Linked DNA regions of Homo sapiens: regions 1, 2, 3 and 4 are each reported to be linked to region 5. Evidence: microRNA targets listed by miRTarBase, many of them from high-throughput screens and not tested one by one. Region 5 holds a microRNA gene; each other region holds the end of a gene's coding sequence. Distances are between the middles of the regions.
The links. The annotated mature microRNA hsa-miR-548f-5p reads UGCAAAAGUAAUCACAGUUUUU and lies in region 5 at 1,903-1,924, opposite strand. An mRNA with a match to its seed (bases 2 to 7 or 8) in the 3' UTR can be bound and repressed. Matches are read on the target gene's strand: a 7mer-m8 pairs with bases 2 to 8, a 7mer-A1 pairs with bases 2 to 7 and ends in A, and an 8mer does both.

Region 1 (4,074 bases), not on the chromosome of region 5:
AAGCTTTAGCAGGTGGTTGTTCAGCCCTGGGATTTTCACAGTAAGGGCTAACAGCAAGGATGGTACTGTCAGCCAGCAGCATTTCCAGCAGCTGGGGAATTAGCCTTCAGGCCTGAAGGGTTTGGGTGCCATATCCCAAGGCCCCCTACAGTAGATTATTTTATTGGATTGTCTCAGTAACTCAGAGGTGGACAGAGAAGGCGGTTATGCCAGGTTCAAGATGAACAACTGAGGTTGAGTGACAAGTTCATAGGAGAGGCATAGAAAGGGGAAGGAGTCCCGTATTCTTTCTGCTGTGGTAAGCCTGCCAAAATGCATACTGAGTCTTTTCTGCCAGAATAACAGTAGGTAACCGCTTCCTCACCTCACTATGTAATCAAGTTAGGAAGGAAATACACCCTTCCTAACTCAGAAATCTGAAGAAGGGAAAGGGAAAGGATGTTTAAGTGAATTTAAGCTGTCATGAATGACATGTTTTTCTATGTGTAGTTGTGTTTATTTTGCTCCAAATGAAACTTTCCATGTTTGTAATAATACTTTTGTTGACAAATTATTATACTACTTACTTTATAAGAATCTGATTGCCCTATTCATTAAAGCCTCTATATTATATTTTTTGTGTGTTTGTTTTTCACTTAGATAATCAAACTAAATAGACGTCTACAACTTCTGGAAGAGGAGAACAAAGAACGTGCTAAAAGAGAAATGGTCATGTATTCAATTACTGTAGCTTTCTGGCTGCTTAATAGCTGGCTCTGGTTTCGCCGCTAGAGGTAACATCAGCCCTCAAAAATACTGTCTCAACAGCTGGAAATATAAAAGATTTGCAAACTTCTTTGTTTCTGTCTCTGCATTGTATGCCATTTTATAGTCCACACCCTGAAAATGTATTTCTTCCAGAAAGTCTGGAGGAAGGACCTATATTTGTAGAAGTAAAGGTATATTCTGTCACTCAGCTGTATTCACGTCTGAGCAGTTCTGCAGTAACACCTGCTTAAAATTCTCCCTTTGCATGTTTTGTAAATAGGCTCCAGTTTTGTTTTTTAAAAGGAATTTATTTTTTGCCTCATCAGTCCACCCAACTGATTCTGAATGGGAGAGAGTCTGTAGAGAATTGATTCAGAAAAGTGTCTGTGAAAGAAAAACAATTATTTTGTCCTGTTTCTCAAACAGTGTTAAGCAGTTTTGTTAATAGACATTTTTGCATCGACACTTCAACATTAACACTTTCAAAGTCATGGTCTGGTGCCAGATTTAAGAAACTCGAACCACCTAATATTTCATAACCTTCTTCATTAGGTACTTGTACAGATTAATTTCTAACATTGCAGCAGTTTCATATGTGTGCAATATGTGCATTCTTTCATTTTAGTTTTGCACTTGGTTTTCTATAAAGTACGTTTTTACTCAGTTCATGCGTGAACAATTTAAAAAACGACAGAATAAGGTACAAATGTAGTGTATTTAATAAACTGTCAACCAAAGAAGTATTTGTCTGTTGAAGGATTTTATTTCATCATTTGTGCAATCAGCTACATTTTGTATCATATTACCTTATGAGTCTTCCCGTCTCAGAGCAAGTAATACAATTAATGACCTGGTAGGTAGCAAGAACCTGCTGTGCTTCCTTTCAGACCTTCATCCTGGTGGTGGTGGCTGTTGGTTGCATTGTAGGTGGTTTTCTAATTTATAATATCTATAAAGTGGTTCAGGTTTAAATACCTTGAGTTGTGTATACTTTTTTTTTTTTGAGATGGAGTCTCGCTCTGTTGCTGATGCTGGAGTCCCGTGGCATGATCTCAGCTCACTGCAACCTCCACCTCCCAGGTTCAAGTGATCCTTCTGCCTCAGCCTCCAGAGTAGCTGGGATTACAGGCGCTGGCCACCACACCCAACTAATTTTTGTATTTTTAGTAGATACAGGGTTTCGCCATGTTGGCCAGGCTGGTCTCGAACTCCTGACCTCAGGTGGTCTGCCTGCCTCAGCCTCCCAAAGTGCTGGGATTACAGCCACTGCGCCCAGCCAGAGTTGTATATACTTTTTTCATGGCAGTATTTATTTGCTAATTATATATAGGTGAATTTAAATCTCAAGGCTGGGTGTGGTGGCTCACGCCCGTAATCCTAATACTTTGGGAGGCCTAGGCGGGTGGATCACTTGAAGTCAGGAGTTCGAGACCAGCCTGGCCAATACAGTGAAACCCCATCTCTACCAAAAATACAAAAATTAGCCAGGTGTGGTGGCAGGCATGGTGGCAATAGCTGTAATCCCAGCTACTCAGGAGGCTGAGGCAGAAGAATCACTTGAACCCAGAAGGCAGAGGTTGCAGTAAGCTGAGATCATGCCACTGTACTCCAGCCTGAGTGACAGAGCCAAACTCCGTCTCAAAAAAAAACTAAAAATTTAAAAGTAAATCTCAAAAGAATTAAACCAAGTGAAGCCAAGTGCTAGACAGTTTTAGCTCTCAAAACTTATATTTCCCCATTTTCGGTTCAGAAATGGGTAGAATTCAGTTAGGTGCAACATTCTCCACACATCTTTGGTATCTTTCTTCCAAGGCAGGGAGTTTGGGGAAAGGCAGTTGAGGAAATTCCTTGGATAGAGTTAGATTTAGCATTTCCGTTCTTGCTTCTTATCCCTCTAAAATAATATCAAGACAAAGATTCTTCTCTGTACTTAGAAGTTTTCTGACTTTTGGTAATGATGCAACTATATTAATTCTAGATTTATGTATACCAGAAGGTAATTTCTGTGGTTATCCTCCAAATTGAAATCACAAAAATGAAGAAAAATGATGGATAAGGTTAGTATCTTTTGATAAACAGACATGAAAAGGATTCCACAAAGGTCAAAAAATGAAATAAAAGCAGGAATACTGAGAGAGAAGTGCGGAAGCCCTTTTTTTCCCTCATGATTCTTACCAAAGAATGGACACTTGGAGCTTTCTCCCTTAATGATTGTGCAAGGGGTAGAAGATCGACTTCCCTACCTCAGGCAGGCACCAGCTGTAACAGGAGACTCGTGAATGAAGCTAAGACCCCAACAGACGGTGAATGAAAACTCTGTTTACAGTGCAAAAGGGGACAACCAAGAAACCTGCCTTACCTGACCTTGTCACATATCTAGAAGTAGAAAAGCTTGAATCTCTCTAACTCCAAAGTTAGGATCTCTATTAAACACCTGTGTACTTCCCCTAAAAATTGTTAATTACTGTTGAAATATATTTTGGAGTTGAGAAGAACAAATTAGTTCCTGGTTAGTATAACCAGATATTTGAGCTGAGCCTTTCAACAAGCAGAGAAAGAACAAGAAAATATTCCAGGTGCAGATGATAGAGGGAGAAATGGATACAGTCAGGAGCCAAAGTCGTATCATACAACTAAGTATAGCAAATATATTGTTGCACTACTGAAAGTGCACCCTTCTCCCCACTTCTAGTAATTATGGTTGAAGTATGTGCAGGTTGTTTACACTTTGAAGGATAACATCATGGAAGTAGTATATTTTCAAGAGAGCTTTCCTTTTTCCTTCCTTCCTGCATGAATGTGTGTTTCCAGCTCCTTAACTATAGTGATTGCCCAGCCCTTATCCAAAATTCTTTGGACCAGAAGTATTTTGAATTTCAGAGTTTTTCAGATTTTCAAGTATTTACATATACATAATGAGATATCTTGAGGATGGGACCCAAGTCTAAACATGAAATTCATTTATATTTCATACATACCCTCTACACATAACCTAAAGATAATTTTATACAATATTTCAAATTTTGTGTATGAAACAAAGTTTGTGTATGCTGAACCATCAGAAAGCAAAAAGCAAAGATGTCATAGTGATATCTCAGCCACGCATGTGGACAGTCGGGTTTTTTGCCATCACTATCATTCCTGACTCTGAGTGTATATGCTGCCAATAAACAGTCATTTTTTCTTAACACTTTTTCACACATAAATACTTAACATTAAAAAATGACACACTATTAATACAGTGAAAAAACTGCGTTCAAGTAACTAAGCAGCACAGGGGCATCACCAGATACTGCACCAGCTGTTAGACAACAGCCACAACCAAGA
Region 2 (4,074 bases), 27 Mb from region 5:
TTTCTTGTCAGGCATCTCTCCCTCTCTACAGCTGTCCATTAAACTACCCATGTCTTATGTTCCATTTATTTTAAATATTTCTACTTTCTTGTGCATAAAGCCTGAATAGAGGAATTGTAACTATGCAATAATATGTTCCAGTTACCAAGCACCTATTATCTGACAGACACTGAGGTAGGCACTTTATGTATTGCATTTTATCTCAATCTTAGTGCAAACCCTACAAGGTATAGCTCCTTACTCCCACTTTGCAGATGAAGAAACTAGATAAGAATGACTAAGTAGTAAGGGACAGAGCTGAGATTCAAAGGTAGTTCTGTCTAGCTTCAAAGCCAAGGTTTTCTCTCCAGTGCAGAGCACACCACAAATAATGCTAATTGTATTAGTGAGGGAAAGAAGGTATTACCTGAAAATGTTCATTTTAAAGTTAGGTATTTTAATAGTCGGCATCACACTCCCTTTTCCTCAGTCTTTGAAAGCTGGATTGGTGGCCTAAGGTGATGAAATTCAAACCTAATACAAATGCAGCACTCCCATATCATATCCCTTAACAGTCTAAGGAGAATTGCTGAATATAATGGGCCCGTCTGTTCTACTGCTTCATCTACCTGGTCAGCTCTCAAAGGAAAACAAAATCCATACGATCATCGAGGTCTAGAAATTAACTTTTATTTTAAATCTGTCAAGAACTCCTGGCAGTTATTAATTTTATTAAAATGATTACATATGGCAAAACAAAGAATAGAGGTAATTCTATTTCTCTACAACATAAATTATGAGTTAGATTTTCAGCTGCCGGCTCAGCATTGTTCAAGATTCTTTTAAAGGACTGGGGGGATTTTAATATCCAGAAAATGTTAAAGCAGCAAAAGAAAAAATAAATTAAAAAGTCATTGCAATTGGAGATATTACCAAGGATGTGCTTACTATAAAGTCTTCTTGACATGTTAATTATAAAATCTTCCAACCTTTGGTATTAAAAAAAATCATGTGAATAGTTGTCCTATATTGCCTTGTCATCTATAATTTATAACATAGAAGAAATTTGCTGATTTTTTTAAAAAGATGGCAAACATGAATCATGACTCATTCAAATAAAATACAACCAGCATTCATTCATTTAACTGAAATATGTCAAAACAAAAACACTTTTATTAACATATTTAATACCAGAATAACTTATAATAGTATGAAAAAGAGTGAAGTATTTGTCTTTAGTTTTCATTGACATGCTCACATTTTGGCATTTTTGTATTGTTTTGCAAAGATTCCAAAGTTTTTATCAGAGATCTCTAACTATTTAAGGATGCAAACCAAAAGAACTCATACTTCATCTGATCATACAGTCATAACTTATATATTTTGCTTTGCGCTTACTGTTACTGCAAACAGCAATTTAGAAAACAAAGTAAAAATATATATATATACACAAAATATTTTTATATCAAATTATCTTCATTACACTAAATAAACCCAATCCCCAAATGTTATGTTACATGAAAAAGTGTCCTACAATTTAGATCAAGACTGATACTGTCCATCAACTAGAGCAGCCTTTGGTTTTAAAAGCATTTTGCAAAATAAAGAAAAATGTCACCACTGGCTGCACTATTGACCCTCATTCACACTGACAAAAATGCTTTCCAGTTTAAAAAAAAAATAGATTACATACCCAGAAAAAAAAAATCCCATCATAAAAAGTCAAACCCTTTTTACTTCTCTGTAGCACATACCCTCTGTTATATTTGGCATTTCCACTGCTTATTCAAGTTTCAGGTCTTCCCAAGCTGATTGGAATATTATTGTTTAGTTGAGAAAGATAGTCTTCTTTCTTGATATTGATTATTCTCACTCAATGGTAGACTAATTTAGAAACAAAATGTTTTCTTTCAATGCATGATTTCACTTCATTTTTACTTTAATGTCCAACTTGGCAAAATTCAAACTGTTCAATGTTTTGTTTTCCATATGTTTTAAATTTAAAAATCAATTTTATGTATGTATATGTATAGCCGCACAGAGATACATTTCTTTCATTCTGTTGTTCTCGCTGCAATACAAATTGTCCATCAGCAATTGTAATTTGAAACAAACCAAATAAAAGATTTTTAGTCATTCCATACGAACACAGTTTCCATCACAAAAAGACAGTGAGCTCTAATGCAAACAGGATTATGTTTTAAAACTACAGGTTTAGTTTTACACAGGAAAATTTTGAGTTATTTGTATAATAAAGTTTTTTTTTAAACTTCAGCAGAACTTGAGAAACAAATCCAGATTAATTCTAAAGGGCTTTGTGGTGCTTTCCAACAGTGCTTGAAAAAAAGTTTTCCTGGTCACCATGTGTTCAATGAAATTTTAAATTAGCTTGAAGGAATCACTTCTTAAATGTACAACGTTCTGTGGATCGCTGCACCTTGAATTTTGGAAGTTTGTAACATATCAAATATGCAGGCAAGATACATGCATAAAATTCTCACCGTCACTCTGAAAAGCACATTGAACAATTTTCAATAATGTAGACGTTTTTTAAAAGGAAGATTTCATTTGGGCTGAACAGATATCCAAGTTTTAACATATGAATTATTGAATGTATTTCAAGGGCTTTCAGCGATTCTGGTTTCAGTCCTGGAATGATTAGGCCCGTCTGGAATGATGCACACAGGCTAATAAGCATATGGCGTTGGCATTTTGAGGCATAGCTTGTTCAACTATGCCCACGTTGGAGCTTATTGTCGGGAAGCAAGGCACTTACTGTAATGGTAATGCAGATGTTTTATGCATAGTTTGAGTAACATAAAATAAGTTAATATTTTTGATTAAAATGAGTTTTTTATAATTTATATGTCTTTTATAGAAGCAACTAAATGATATATTTGGGATAATTAAAAATAAGAAGAGGTTTGGGAGAGAGTCATTTTCATCCCTGCTTCGGCTCTTAGGATGAGGGTTGATGAAAACACCGGAAAGAACATCCATTGGATCTGAAAAGCAACAAGCTCTTAAAACTGCTGCACCAGCGGCACTTTGACAGTCTTTACTTCTGCTATATGGGACGACTTCTGGATGATGCAGCTGGTAGTTCCCTGCAGTTTGTCCTTTCCCTGTGCAAGATTTGTTAAGGCCATAGCTGCGTTGATCTCCTTCCAATACGTGTCATCCTTGCTTGGTCCTTTTCTGTTAGCTGCGCTGGAGTTAAGCAAAACAGAAAGTAAACGATCAAACTCACTGCAGTTTGCATTGAAAATGCCATCGCTGAAAAGCAGGAACGGCCAATGGGAACATTTTGCTCACCTTTCACCCTTATTGGATCCGTTTTCCAGAGTGTCTGTAAAGAAAAGCAAAAATTCAATTATTTTTATGTTTTTCCTTTCTTTTCTCATCTCAGGAGTTTCATCACTAATGACCAGAAGTAAAAGTTCTTCAGGAAATATGGTTGAAAATTAGTTCGCTTTTAATAAAGATAAAGCAGTTTATATTAAGATGCAAAAAAAATTGCAAAGGGGCAGAAGTAAGATGACAGTGGGTAGTAAAGAATAAAAGGTAGCTCTCATAGATACACAAAAATCTGAAGTTATTTACTCTGAGAAATTGGGCCTTTTGGATCAGGAGACAAACAGCATAAGGAAAAGAGTGCTGACTGTACCTGGGGCCAGGTTCTGGCCTTGCCCTACTACCCACTTGCAGTGTAACCTGGGGGCAGATTATGACCTCCCACAATGTCAGGGATTCAGTTCTCTAACTATAAAATCAGGGAGCTTTGGCTGGGCACAGTGGCTCATATCTGTAATCCCAGCACTTTGGGAGGCCAAGGCGGGGGATTGCTTGAGCCTAGGAATTCGAGACCAGCCTGCGCTACATAGTGAGACCTCATCTCTACTAAAAATAAAAATAAAAATAGCTGGGTATGGTGGGTGTTCACCTATATTCCCAGTTACTCAGGAGGCTGAGGTGGGAGGATTGCTTGAGCCCAGGGGGGTGAAGGTGCAGTAAGCAGTGATTGTGCCACTGCACTCCAGCCTGGGCAACAGAGCAAGACCCTGTCTCTAAGAAAATTAAAATAAAAAAGGGGGG
Region 3 (4,074 bases), not on the chromosome of region 5:
GAGAGAACTGATTTCTTAGTACCCAGCCTCACAAATAGTAAGCTCTTGGTAAAATGGTTTTTTCCTTTTGGGTGGGAGGAAGAGGGTGCTCGGATGACCAGCAAGAACCCTGGCTAGAAATCTTTGGGCCCTGAACATTCTAATGACAGTGCACATAATTTCTGTGCCTGTATGTGCATTTTTCTGGGGAGTGGATCCATAACCCCCAAAAGGTTAATGGAAGAATTACCTTGTCTAGGGGATAGGTTTGGAATAAAATGAGTGCAATAGTTTGGGAAAATTAATTGGTTCCCTAGTTGGTTCACAATGGTGCTAGCTACTTTGGGGAATATAAAAGGTTATTAGTCCTACCTGAGAATGTACAATCTGTAGGGACGAGGATCTGGATCAATATTGGTGACTAATTAGGAAATGAAGAAAGAGAAGAGCCCAAAGTGACTCCGTGGTTGATTTAAAGAATGGTTTTGTCAGGTGTCAAAAAGTGAGAAGTTAATAAACAAGAGTTAGGCCTATCTGCAGACCCCAATGGTTACTATTTTTCTTTCCTTTTAGGTGCATCACTTCATGGAGTTATGTTGGGATAAATGTGTGGAGAAGCCAGGGAATCGCCTAGACTCTCGCACTGAAAATTGTCTCTCCAGCTGTGTAGACCGCTTCATTGACACCACTCTTGCCATCACCAGTCGGTTTGCCCAGATTGTACAGAAAGGAGGGCAGTAGGCCATCCCCCAGGAGAATGACAGAAGCAAAGGACTTGTTACTAAGCAGATTTAAGGGTCAGTGGGGGAAGGCTATCAACCCATTGTCAGATCAGCATCAGGCTGTTATCAAGTCTGTTGGTGCTAAAAAGTAAAAGATGAAATGTTCAAAGAGTGAAATTTATTTATTTGGAATTCAGAAATTCCAGGTTGTATGACATCAGTTACTCAATAAGTGTGAATTCTCCAACTCTTCTTTTAATCCCATTTTAGAATTTAATATAGAGATCTCTGATTGGCAGGAACACTAGAAATAAATGTTCCATGGCCAGTAGTGCAAATGGGGGATTGTAGGTTTTGAAAAACCACCCTAAGCCATATTAAGGGGGTTGGAAGAACCATCGAAGCCTAAGGCATAGAAGAAAATTTGGGGTTAAGAAAGATGAAGAACAAAAAACAGCTTTATTGCTTATACATGACCAAGAAAAGGAAAACATGGCAAAAAAAAAAAAAAAAAGGCAAGATGTGTATTCCTTGCGAAAGAACAAGCCTGCTAACTTGGGAGGAAGGGAAGGTCAGGACCCAAATAGAGCCAATTTCCTGGAGATGGCCTGTTCTACTGGCACATTTTCCTGAGTCTGTGCTTAAAACCTTTCAGGTACTTTCAGGGCACAGAAACAATGCATGCTAAAAAATATATGGCCAAAGCTCCTTCCAACAAAGATTTAACTTGCTCCAGGAACAAAATAATTGCTTTAGGTTAAGAGGTAGTAATTAGAGACTATTCTTCTCCCTTTAGACCCCCACTAATCCCAAAAATAAAAATACACACCATGGAACACTGACAATTGAGTACCAAAGTATTAAAATTTAAAATAAATATCCCAAAAGGTAGCACCTGCTCATAGTTAAGGGATAGGGCACCTCTGTCCAACCATGTATTTTAAGACCAAGCACTTTATTAGAAATCTGTCCCGTAAAGAGAACAAATTTAGCAGTTAGAACTAAAAATACCAACTCATGGAATGTCATCATAGTTGTATCTACTGCTGGTGTCTTATACTGTCATGCTACTGTGAAGTAATTCCGTATTACACATCAGGAAAGTAAGGCCAGGAAGGTGAACTTACCTGCTCTGGGCCTCCTCATAACCAATGAGTGGCAGAACCAAGACCGAAAGTCTGAGTTTTCAAGCTTTTTACTCAGCCCATTAAGTGACAACCAGGAAAAAATAATACGTCACTTGATCTTTCTTCCCACAGTGAAAAAATGCACTTGCGTTCTGCCAGCCTTCTTTCAGTGATATGTTGGTTTCTTAAGAATTAACATACTAAGGATCACAGTATAGCAAAGGGAATTAATGTGGTCTCTGCTTGGTGCTTTAATCCAAAGGCAGACTGGGAAGAAGTGGATATGTCCCTGAGAAGCCTGTTTCATTTTGGAAATAATTCAACTTAGTTTCAGGGAAAACCTAAACTTCATGAACAGATTTAGAAATGAACAAGACAACATTTAAATGGCAGTTGCTGCCCTGAATCCAGAGTACCATTAGACAACATGATTATTTCCTAATTCTTCCCCATTTGGTACAGGATTATCTATGACAATTGAAGAAATAATTTGAACACAAGTCCATTTAGGCAAATATACAGCAATGGAACTAGAAAACCATTTACTATCCAATTACCATGTTTAGGCATATACTAAGTATAGCTATAGGCCCCATCCAGCAGGGAAATTTGCAAAAACTCTAGTCCCTTCTAATAAGTTGTCTATGGATGTTATCATGAAGGGAAAAGGTTTGTTCTTAGGCCCATGTCCTGATTAAGTAAACCGGACCACACCTGTGGGGTCAAAATATAGAAGGATCAAAGCACCAAGGCTAAAGACAAGTTAGTTGTGACACCTGCTATATAAACAGAGAGCAATACAGTGTTGCCTTGTCATACCATCCTACATGGCATTAGTTCCAATCCACCTCTTGATCCCAGCCCTTGACTTCCCCAAATTCAATATTCCGATTGGTGTACCCAGGTCACTATTGGATCCAGCTTTCTGGGTCCTTTAATTTGCTGTATATGCACTCTACACTAAACGTAATTAATTGCAAAAAAAAATAATCTCTTCAAGAAACCTTCATAACAAAATACCAGATTCCCTTTTAACAAGAAAAGGGGATCAAGCTTAACGCCAAAATAGAAGACAAGACGTCTGTCAGAACATACAGATGGCACAAGACAGCTCTGACCTCAGGCCCCGTGCTGAACAAGAGTCACTGGCAAAACCACAAGGAGTAAGAACTGTAAATATCCACAGTCATGTGGAAAACAAAAGTGTTTCCCATTTAGTCATCCTCTGAGCTCTCAGCAGACCTTTCATCTGTAGCTACTTTCCAATTTGTGCGTTTGTTTGTCCTCTCCTGTATTTCATTGTTGGCTACAGAGGTATGGGCTTTTTTCTCTCTCTTTTTCCTTTTGGTTTTCTTAGTGTCTCTTTCCTCACTTTCCTCAGAACTGCTGGATGCTGAATCATCTGAATGTGAAGTGTTACTTTCTGCCTCTAAGAATAAAGCAGGTTTTTTGAGAGACTTTTTCCTGGATTTTTTCTTGCGTTTATGTGGTTGTTTCCCTTTCCTTGTACCAGAAGCCCCAGTTTCTTCTGAGAACTCACTCGAGGAATCTGCTGTTATATCTGTGGCTTCCTTTTTGCTTTTCTTCTGTTTTTTGTGTGACCTTTTTTTCTGCTTTTTTTTGTGGGATTTCTTTGACTTCTTGTGTTTGCGGGATTCATGGGTAGATGACTTTACCTGGGGAGATGTTTTCTTCCCGTTGGTAATATCTTGCTGATCACTACTAATAAGAAAAGTTAAAAAATAGAAGCTTTTATGTAAAAAAAAAGCGTATTATTTTAATATTTTGCATTCTAGATTAAAAAATTGAGGTTAACATCTGAATTTTAAATAAGCACTTTAATGTATACTTTAACACTTTAATATTCTCATTGAGTTTTTGTTTCCTCATCTTTAAAATGAAGGTAAAAATTCTAAGCTGCCATACTGAGTTACTGTATGGAATACTATATATAAAAACCAAAATGCTTACAGACATGCCAAACATCAACCAGAGAATGGGAAAACAGGGATCACCTCCTAACTAAATCACCTATTGTTTCTCTAGCTACATTTTTGATGGCAAGTATATTCTTCGTAAAAGTTAAGAAATCAATTTATAATACAGATTTTGTACCATCTTAGTTTCTTTCAGTAAGCCTATTTTCCTTACCTGTCTGTTTCAAATTCTTCAGGGTATAACTCTTTATAACCACTGTGACCCCATCTGTAATATGACACATCACATGTATTGTTAAAGCAATGCAT
Region 4 (3,000 bases), not on the chromosome of region 5:
AGCCCACATGCATGTGTTCACTTCTCCAGTGTGATAGGCATAAGATACCAGAAAAGGATCATGTAGCTGTGAAAACACCAAAACAGGGAGAACTGATGGTAAATGACTATGTGTGAATGGACCAGGAAGCCCAAAAAATCCTAATACAGAAAACAGAGTGGGGAACAGAGTGCACCTAGAGAAAGAAAGATAAACACACCCCAAAGGAACAACAAGCAAATAAAATATCAAAGACATCTCCACATTTTCTTGTACCACCAAGAGGCTCCCCCAAAATAACAAGTCCATTTGTCATGTTTCCTGTCTCGTTCACTTAACTATCAGGAGATAAGGTTTAAATCTCTTTTTGTTTGCTGGGCCCCCCTCCATCCTCCATCCTGCAAATAGAATTCTACTCCAGAAAAGCAAATAAATTGAATTTTATAAAATTACAGTGTGGATAGAAGTGAGACAATGGATTGTTCCACAAACCCAAAATCAGAACTAAGGTGTCTCCTGAAGCCTGGAAGAAGTAGCTAATTAAATAAATGAAGAGGCTGGGCGTGGTGGTTCACGCCTATAATCCCAGCACTTTGGGAGGCTGAGGCATGAGGATTGCTTCAGCCCAGGAATTCAAAACCAGCCTGGGCAACATAGTGAGACTCTCTCTCTGCAAAAAAAAAAAAAAAAATTAGTCAGGCATGGTGGTACAGACCTGTAGTCCCAGCTACCAGGGAGGCTGAGGTGGAAAGATCACTTTAGCCCATGGGGTCGAGGCTGCAGTAAGCAGTGATCACTCCACTGCACCCAGCCTGGGAGACACAGCAAGACCCTGTCTCAAAAATGAAATAAACAGAGATAGTATTAGTATTTTACAGGTCAGTAAACATGCTGTTCTCATTGCCTCCCATGCCCCTCACCGGATAAAAGAGATGACAAAAGACGACATAAATGTATATTTATATATATTCATGTATATAAGTGAGGTATGCATTAACAGTGCTAGCTGGTATGGTGATGTGGAGTTGAAGGCAATCAAGGTGTCAGCTCTAGAGAAAGCAGTAAGGAAGGTGTGGTAGACGCACACTATAGAATACCAGGCAGCAGTCAGAAGTAATGAACTAGACACTGCTAGATGTGGAGTGAAAAAATGTTGAATGAAAAACGAAACTGAGAAGAACTATAACACAGTATCATGTACATTTGGTTAAGCATAAATTAAAAACATACCACATGCAAAGCACTACACCATTTTCTCAGGCTATAGATTTAAAGGTGTGTCAAACACAACAGATTGGGTCCTTCTGTGGGGAGAATGGTAGAAAACAGGATTGAAGGAGCAAAATTAAAACCAAGGAGTCCTCATTGTTGGATAATAGGGAACCTGGGCACCAATGGGATGTAATTAATTCAACTCTGCATCCAAAGTTTAAAGAAAAAGACCTATGTCTAGCAAATGAGGTCTGGTTAATACACCGTGAGGGCAACCACATTCTCCTGGCATGCTTGAACCCACCACTCAGTATACTGCACTGACTAAAACTCACCATGCCTTACTCAGTGTGGTATATTTGCTCTGTAAAAGAGAACTTTAAGCACTAACTCTGCCAGGGACTCAATGAGTGTTGGGTCCTTTAGCAGATTTATTTAACCCCAACAGCCTGTGAGATAATAAACACCTCCATTTTACAGATTTAAAAAGCCAAGTCACTTTTCCAAGGTCACAAAGATAACTCAATGGATTTGAACTTCATGTTTAGCTTCATTTTCACTATATCAGTGCCTTCCTCTAAGCCACCTAACCTGAGAATTTCTCCCAAGATTTGACCCTGAGGTAGTCTTTCTAAAATGATACCTAAGCATTTTACCTTTACTTTCCTCCTAGACTAACTGCACCACTGGAAACTGCATCAGACTACACAGTAGTCACTCTGTGCAGTCATGTTTAGAAATATAAAACCTTTACAGCAAGCTATTGATGTGCTTTTTAACTTAGCCTGGATTTAATGCAAGCGCCCAGAGATATTCAGTACCTCCTGTACCATGATACATTCCATGAGTGACATTCAACTTTGCCCCTACATAAGCCTTCAAGCCCCCTTACATAGGTCCCAGTGCCATGACATGGTGAGTTACTCTCAAAGTTAAACTAAGTTTGGGGCACACAAGTCATTCCTGATTCCTCACATTACTCTGACAATCATAAATCATTTAAAGCTGAGGCGATGAAGCAACTGTCAGGCAGCAGTGCAAGTCCCAGGGTCCAGTAGACACAGGACTTACCTTGTGAAAACATAACCTTTCAACACTATTCAAAAACGACATCTGAAAACTCATATGGTTCTAACTTTTATTATTAGGTCAGAACGAATGAAGTAGCAGCAAAAGGGTCTCTCCTATGATCTGTCTTTCACTGGTCCTCAGGGCAAGGAGGAAACTTGGGCAGGAGATGATTGCTCAATCCCAGCAGACTCTCAGAATCTCACTTGGACCCGAAAGTGCATCTGCTTGGTGGCATTGTTCTTCATTCCTGTCTTCAGCATCCATTTTGATTTCATCCTTTGGACATACTGCATGTCTCGCTCTCGCATAAGAGCCGCTCCTATGATTGGAAGGCAGTTAAGAAATTAGGCAAAGTTCTGTTATTTGTGATCAGAGAAAATCCAACCTTGGCAGAGAATTCAAAAGGTTAGTTTGGGGTAACTAGGTTCTTGTATTTAAAACAGAGTTGCTAACTTGGGGTCTCTAAGCCATGCGCCTCAGGGGTCTCTGTGGACTCCAGAATTGCATACCAGAACTTTTGTATATATACACTTATCTGGGATTAGTAGCTTTAGTTTTCATCATCTGGAAGAGTTTATAAGCCCAAAAGGTAAAGCCCCATTAATCAGAAAGGCAGAAGCTATATATCGAGTCAGACAATACTTCCTGATAAGAGTAAGATGAAGTCAAGTCTCTGCCAGATTCAAGTGGCCACACAGCTCACAAGCAGCCACAGTGAAGGAAACCACATATAAACAC
Region 5 (4,074 bases):
TGTTTTCTATAGCCCACATGTAAATAGTGAATGGCAACACCAATAGCTCTCATAGACAGTGAGTTAGAAGCCAGACCTCAGGTAGGAGCTAGAAAACTTAGAATGCTTGATTTGTAGTCTAACTTCTTTCATAGAGAATCTGGGAACTGGGCTTTGTTGTTGTAGCTAGTTGGTGAATGAGGAGGTGAAGTGGAGGAGATATGGGAAGAACCCATTTGTTTGGGCATTTTTTCTCAATGTACCTTAGTTTGTCTGTAGTAGCTGGCCACAGTAGTGATGATTCTATTTCCTGAGAGGTGAGAATTGCTGCCAAAGAATGTCTGCCATGGATGAGAATACAAAGAAAGGAAACTAAGAACTCTCAAAGCAGCTACTAGAAACCCTTCATAGAGGACAAGAATTATCTTCAGTTTTGAGATATATGAGAATGATTACAACTCCTTTGAGCAGGCTTCACATACTGCCCAAAGATGCTTCTCTAGTTTGTGTCCTTCTTGCTATCAGAAAGAGAGAAGGAAACTAAATAAAACAAAATAAAAATTTTAGAATTTTGTGCTGTCTTGGACATGGAAGCAATGGGTCAGGATCAAGATTGTGGAAAGATGCCAGTTCGGATGCAGGCTAGAAAAATTAGTATTGTCCTCAACTGGAATCAGCAACCAAAAGACTAAGTGTATGTGTCTCTGTAGGCTGAAGGGTTTTCAGATATCATAAAAGATAAGAAGTCAAGCTACACTTGTTTGGAAGCATGTGGCAGAGAACACAGATTAATTGTTTAAAGGATGGCCCAAACTTAAGGCCAAGTCACATCAAACCCATCAGAAACCAAAAGTGTGGCAGAATTCCTAACAGAAGGATGAGAGAGGAAGAGCCTTATATAGATCTGTCTTCTGTTTCACATTCTGACTATTCTAAAGCTTTTAATGAAGAATTCCCTAGAGTCATAAAACAAAGGCTAAATGGTGAGTGGCTGCAAATACACATAAAAATATAGTGAATTTTTTGAAAAGATATACTAATTTCAGGTGGCTAGAAAGATTTATTAACATAAGTAATAAAGGTCTTTTAGTTGTCAAAGTAACTTATACTTAATATTTATTGCAATTTTAAAAAATTAAAATGCTAAAAATTATTTGTGAAAATGAGTTGTTTTATATGTTTACATTTAATAACAATACTTTTTACATAAAGAAAATACAATAATTAAATATATCTGAACTAGTCAAAAGATAATTATAAGATTTAAAATTGAGTTTATGTGCAATAAATGTGGTAAACAATAATGTGATATAAAATCTTCTAAATTTAATAATATTCTTGGTAGAGGATTCTGGGGCAAAAATATGATTTTCTCCATATCCCTGCCCACTACCCAATATATGATAACATGTGGCATTATTAAATATGGAAAAATATTAAAGAATGGCAGTAGACTAGAGAGAAGAGAAGGAAAGGCATACAGGAAATCCAGGTCCCTGCCCTCAGAGACCTCTCAATTCCTGGCATATGTTTATGTTTTGAACATTATGCAAATTTGTCTGCATGACAAATTTATTCTTGTTTCAGGTTAAGAGTAGAAATCAACCCATAGTCCTTACGATTAGAATTGCCTTAGCATAACGATTCAATCAGTAAGAAAATATAATAGACTAGAGGGTAATGGAGATTTTAAAATTTATATTATCTTAATATATTTATTAGAAAAAATATTAGATTGCTCAATAAATCAATGGTAACTTTAAGGCTTTTACTGTCTACTACAAAGAATTTTTATAGATATATGAAGAATGATGGTAAGGAAGAGATATGATGCCATGAGGCCTACTGTGAGCAAGACACTGCTAATCAGGCTATTAGGTTGGTCCAAAAGTAATTACAGTTTTTGTCTTTGAAAGTAATGTCAAAAACTGTGATTACTTTTGCACCAACCTAATACTTCCGCACTTTGGAAAGGCTTTGCCTACATCATTTTGGTTATTGTGAGAAGACTTGCACACATAAGGAATTTTTCAAAATAATATTTTAACTTGAAATACTTTTCTTTGACAAATACAGTAAAAGTGATAGAGCCAAAAAGAGGACTAGGCATAGCCCTGAGGGGATTTCCGAGCAAAAAAATCCCAGGGGATTTGTATGCAAACACTTCGCTCAATAAAAGGAGAGGCCAGGTGTGGTGGCTCACAACTGTAATCCCAGCACTGTGGGAGGCCGAGGTGGCTGGATTGCTTGAGCCCAGGAGTTTAGGACGAGCATGGGCAACATGACAAAAACTTATCTCTACCAAAAAAAAAAAAGAAAAAATAGCGGACATGGTGGGGTACACCTATAGTCCAGCCACTTAGAGAGGCTGATGTGGGAGAAACGCTTCAACTCGGGAGTTTGAGACCCGCCTGGGCAGTTTAGTGAAACCTCATCACTACAGATAATAATAATAATAATTATCTGGGTGTGGTGACACACGCCTATAGTTTCAGCTACTCTGGAGGCTGAGGTGGGCGGATAGATTGAACCCAGGATATCTAGGCTGCAGTGATCTGTGATCATGCCACTGCACTCCAGCCTGGGTGACAGAGACCCTCTCTTAACAAAATAAAAAATACAAAAAGGAGAAAGTCATCAAACAAAATGATGTGACTTAGTCTGGTAATATTCGTCAAGAAGTCAAGATTTATGCTCTCTTACAATTCTGACTTTCACATTGAATTAAATTAAGGGTGTCTTGGCTTGTTTAGTGTAGTTTAGTAAAATACAGTCATTTGTTTTCCACAGCTATTATATTATTCTCCATTAAAAAAAGAAGAAGAAGAAGAAATGAGAAAAAAAAATCAGTCCCTAGCTAGAAATTTTAAGAGTCAATAACATTTGGGAAATGAAAATATATTCTGAAGTAGTATAATCATACCCAAATTTTTAGACTCTGTACTCAATCTATAAGATGTATGTGAGCAAAATATTATTAGAAGCAACATGAATGATAATCACGCACTACAAGCGCACGAATAATGTTTCCCTGAAAGGTACAATAAAAAATTATTCAATGTGAAACAAAACGTTGACTGCAACAATTATTAAAATTTGACTATTGAATTGTCAGTATACTCAATTATGAAGACATTTGGAAAATATAAATGAGCACTACTGTTTTTGCTCATTTTTTAAAAATGAAAATTTTTGGTAATGTCTGACCTGAAGGCAGATATTCATTATAATAGTCAAATATCATAAATACATTTCAAATGTTATGTATTCTACATAAATTACTCAGGAGAGGAACATGTAGGCTCATAAACTTGCACACAAGTAAAGGAATGTTTCTTAGGAAAAAATTCTGTGTTAAAGATATTCCACACCAATGTCTCAGGAAAAGGCATTTGTAGTATACTGCTCCATTACCTATGCTTCATAAAAAATGCAGCTATCTAATTTAATTTAGCTCTGAACAGATTTCTTAGCAGCATAATTTATGTTTTGAGAATATCTCTTAAGAATCATAGCTTGCAATCTATGGTGCTTCAATGAAGAATAATCTGTAAACAAAATCTCCATCTATCAACAAAGGCCATTAAAGACCATAAAATAACCCATCCTTGACTGATTAATGCTGCTACTGAAAGGGATTTCAGGCTATTAACATCCAGAAAATATACTGCCACTGTGGTTGCATTTATTATAAATCACATAGTTATATGTACTGGTGTAAAGCAATGTTTTCTTAACCACCTCCCTCTCCCAAATTAATTTAATAACAAAGATACTTTGAAGAACACTAAATATCTATAGAAAGTAAATGATTCTATTTTTTTCCCTAGAGGAAATGTATGTGAAGGCAGGGCTATTTATAATACATTAGATAGCTAAATATTGGTTTAACACTTTATATGCAGTTCAATTATGTTCATATATTTATGTCATTAAAATAGTTTCTCTAATGTAAAATAAAACATTAAATTCATTTGTATTTCTTGATACTTTTATTAACAATACTGATGGTTTTTCATGGGTAAAATAGCCATCAAAAATTGTTAGTTGTTACCTTTAGGTTCATCCTATTCTGTCAATTTGATTGTCACTAAC

Region 1: miRTarBase lists MFF as a target of hsa-miR-548f-5p. Seed matches in the 3' UTR shown: 7mer-A1 at 1,200-1,206 and 7mer-A1 at 1,373-1,379.
Region 2: miRTarBase lists MKX as a target of hsa-miR-548f-5p. Seed matches in the 3' UTR shown: 7mer-A1 at 1,575-1,581 and 7mer-m8 at 866-872.
Region 3: the mRNA of NKAPD1 is a reported target of hsa-miR-548f-5p. Seed matches in the 3' UTR shown: 7mer-A1 at 2,804-2,810 and 7mer-A1 at 2,439-2,445.
Region 4: miRTarBase lists ZNF622 as a target of hsa-miR-548f-5p. Seed matches in the 3' UTR shown: 7mer-m8 at 2,361-2,367.

The regions. Positions count from the first base shown.
Region 1 is chr2:227,356,347-227,360,420 of GRCh38, forward strand. It overlaps MFF (mitochondrial fission factor), which reads left to right. Exons shown (of 9, transcript NM_001277062.2): 9 at 640-1,487. The coding sequence ends at 771. Among named protein-coding and RNA genes, the nearest start is that of TM4SF20, 21 kb to the right of the region's middle.
Region 2 is chr10:27,672,227-27,676,300 of GRCh38, forward strand. It overlaps MKX (mohawk homeobox), which reads right to left. Exons shown (of 7, transcript NM_173576.3): 6 at 3,295-3,328; 7 at 648-3,189. The coding sequence ends at 3,003. Among named protein-coding and RNA genes, the nearest start is that of MKX-AS1, 70 kb to the right of the region's middle.
Region 3 is chr11:112,081,941-112,086,014 of GRCh38, reverse strand. It overlaps NKAPD1 (NKAP domain containing 1), which reads right to left. Exons shown (of 6, transcript NM_018195.4): 5 at 3,980-4,033; 6 at 865-3,550. The coding sequence ends at 3,043. It overlaps TIMM8B (translocase of inner mitochondrial membrane 8 homolog B), which reads left to right. Exons shown (of 2, transcript NM_012459.4): 2 at 553-1,215. The coding sequence ends at 720. Among named protein-coding and RNA genes, the nearest start is that of TIMM8B, 2.8 kb to the left of the region's middle.
Region 4 is chr5:16,449,204-16,452,203 of GRCh38, forward strand. ZNF622 (zinc finger protein 622) reads right to left here. Exons shown (of 6, transcript NM_033414.3): 6 at 2,316-2,581. The coding sequence ends at 2,454. Among named protein-coding and RNA genes, the nearest start is that of LINC02150, 9.6 kb to the left of the region's middle.
Region 5 is chr10:54,606,024-54,610,097 of GRCh38, forward strand. It overlaps MIR548F1 (microRNA 548f-1), which reads right to left and starts at 1,934; the gene lies at 1,851-1,934. The region is part of intron 2 of PCDH15 (protocadherin related 15); the gene reads right to left. LOC105378311 (a long non-coding RNA gene) reads left to right here. Exons shown (of 6, transcript NR_134503.1): 3 at 1-962.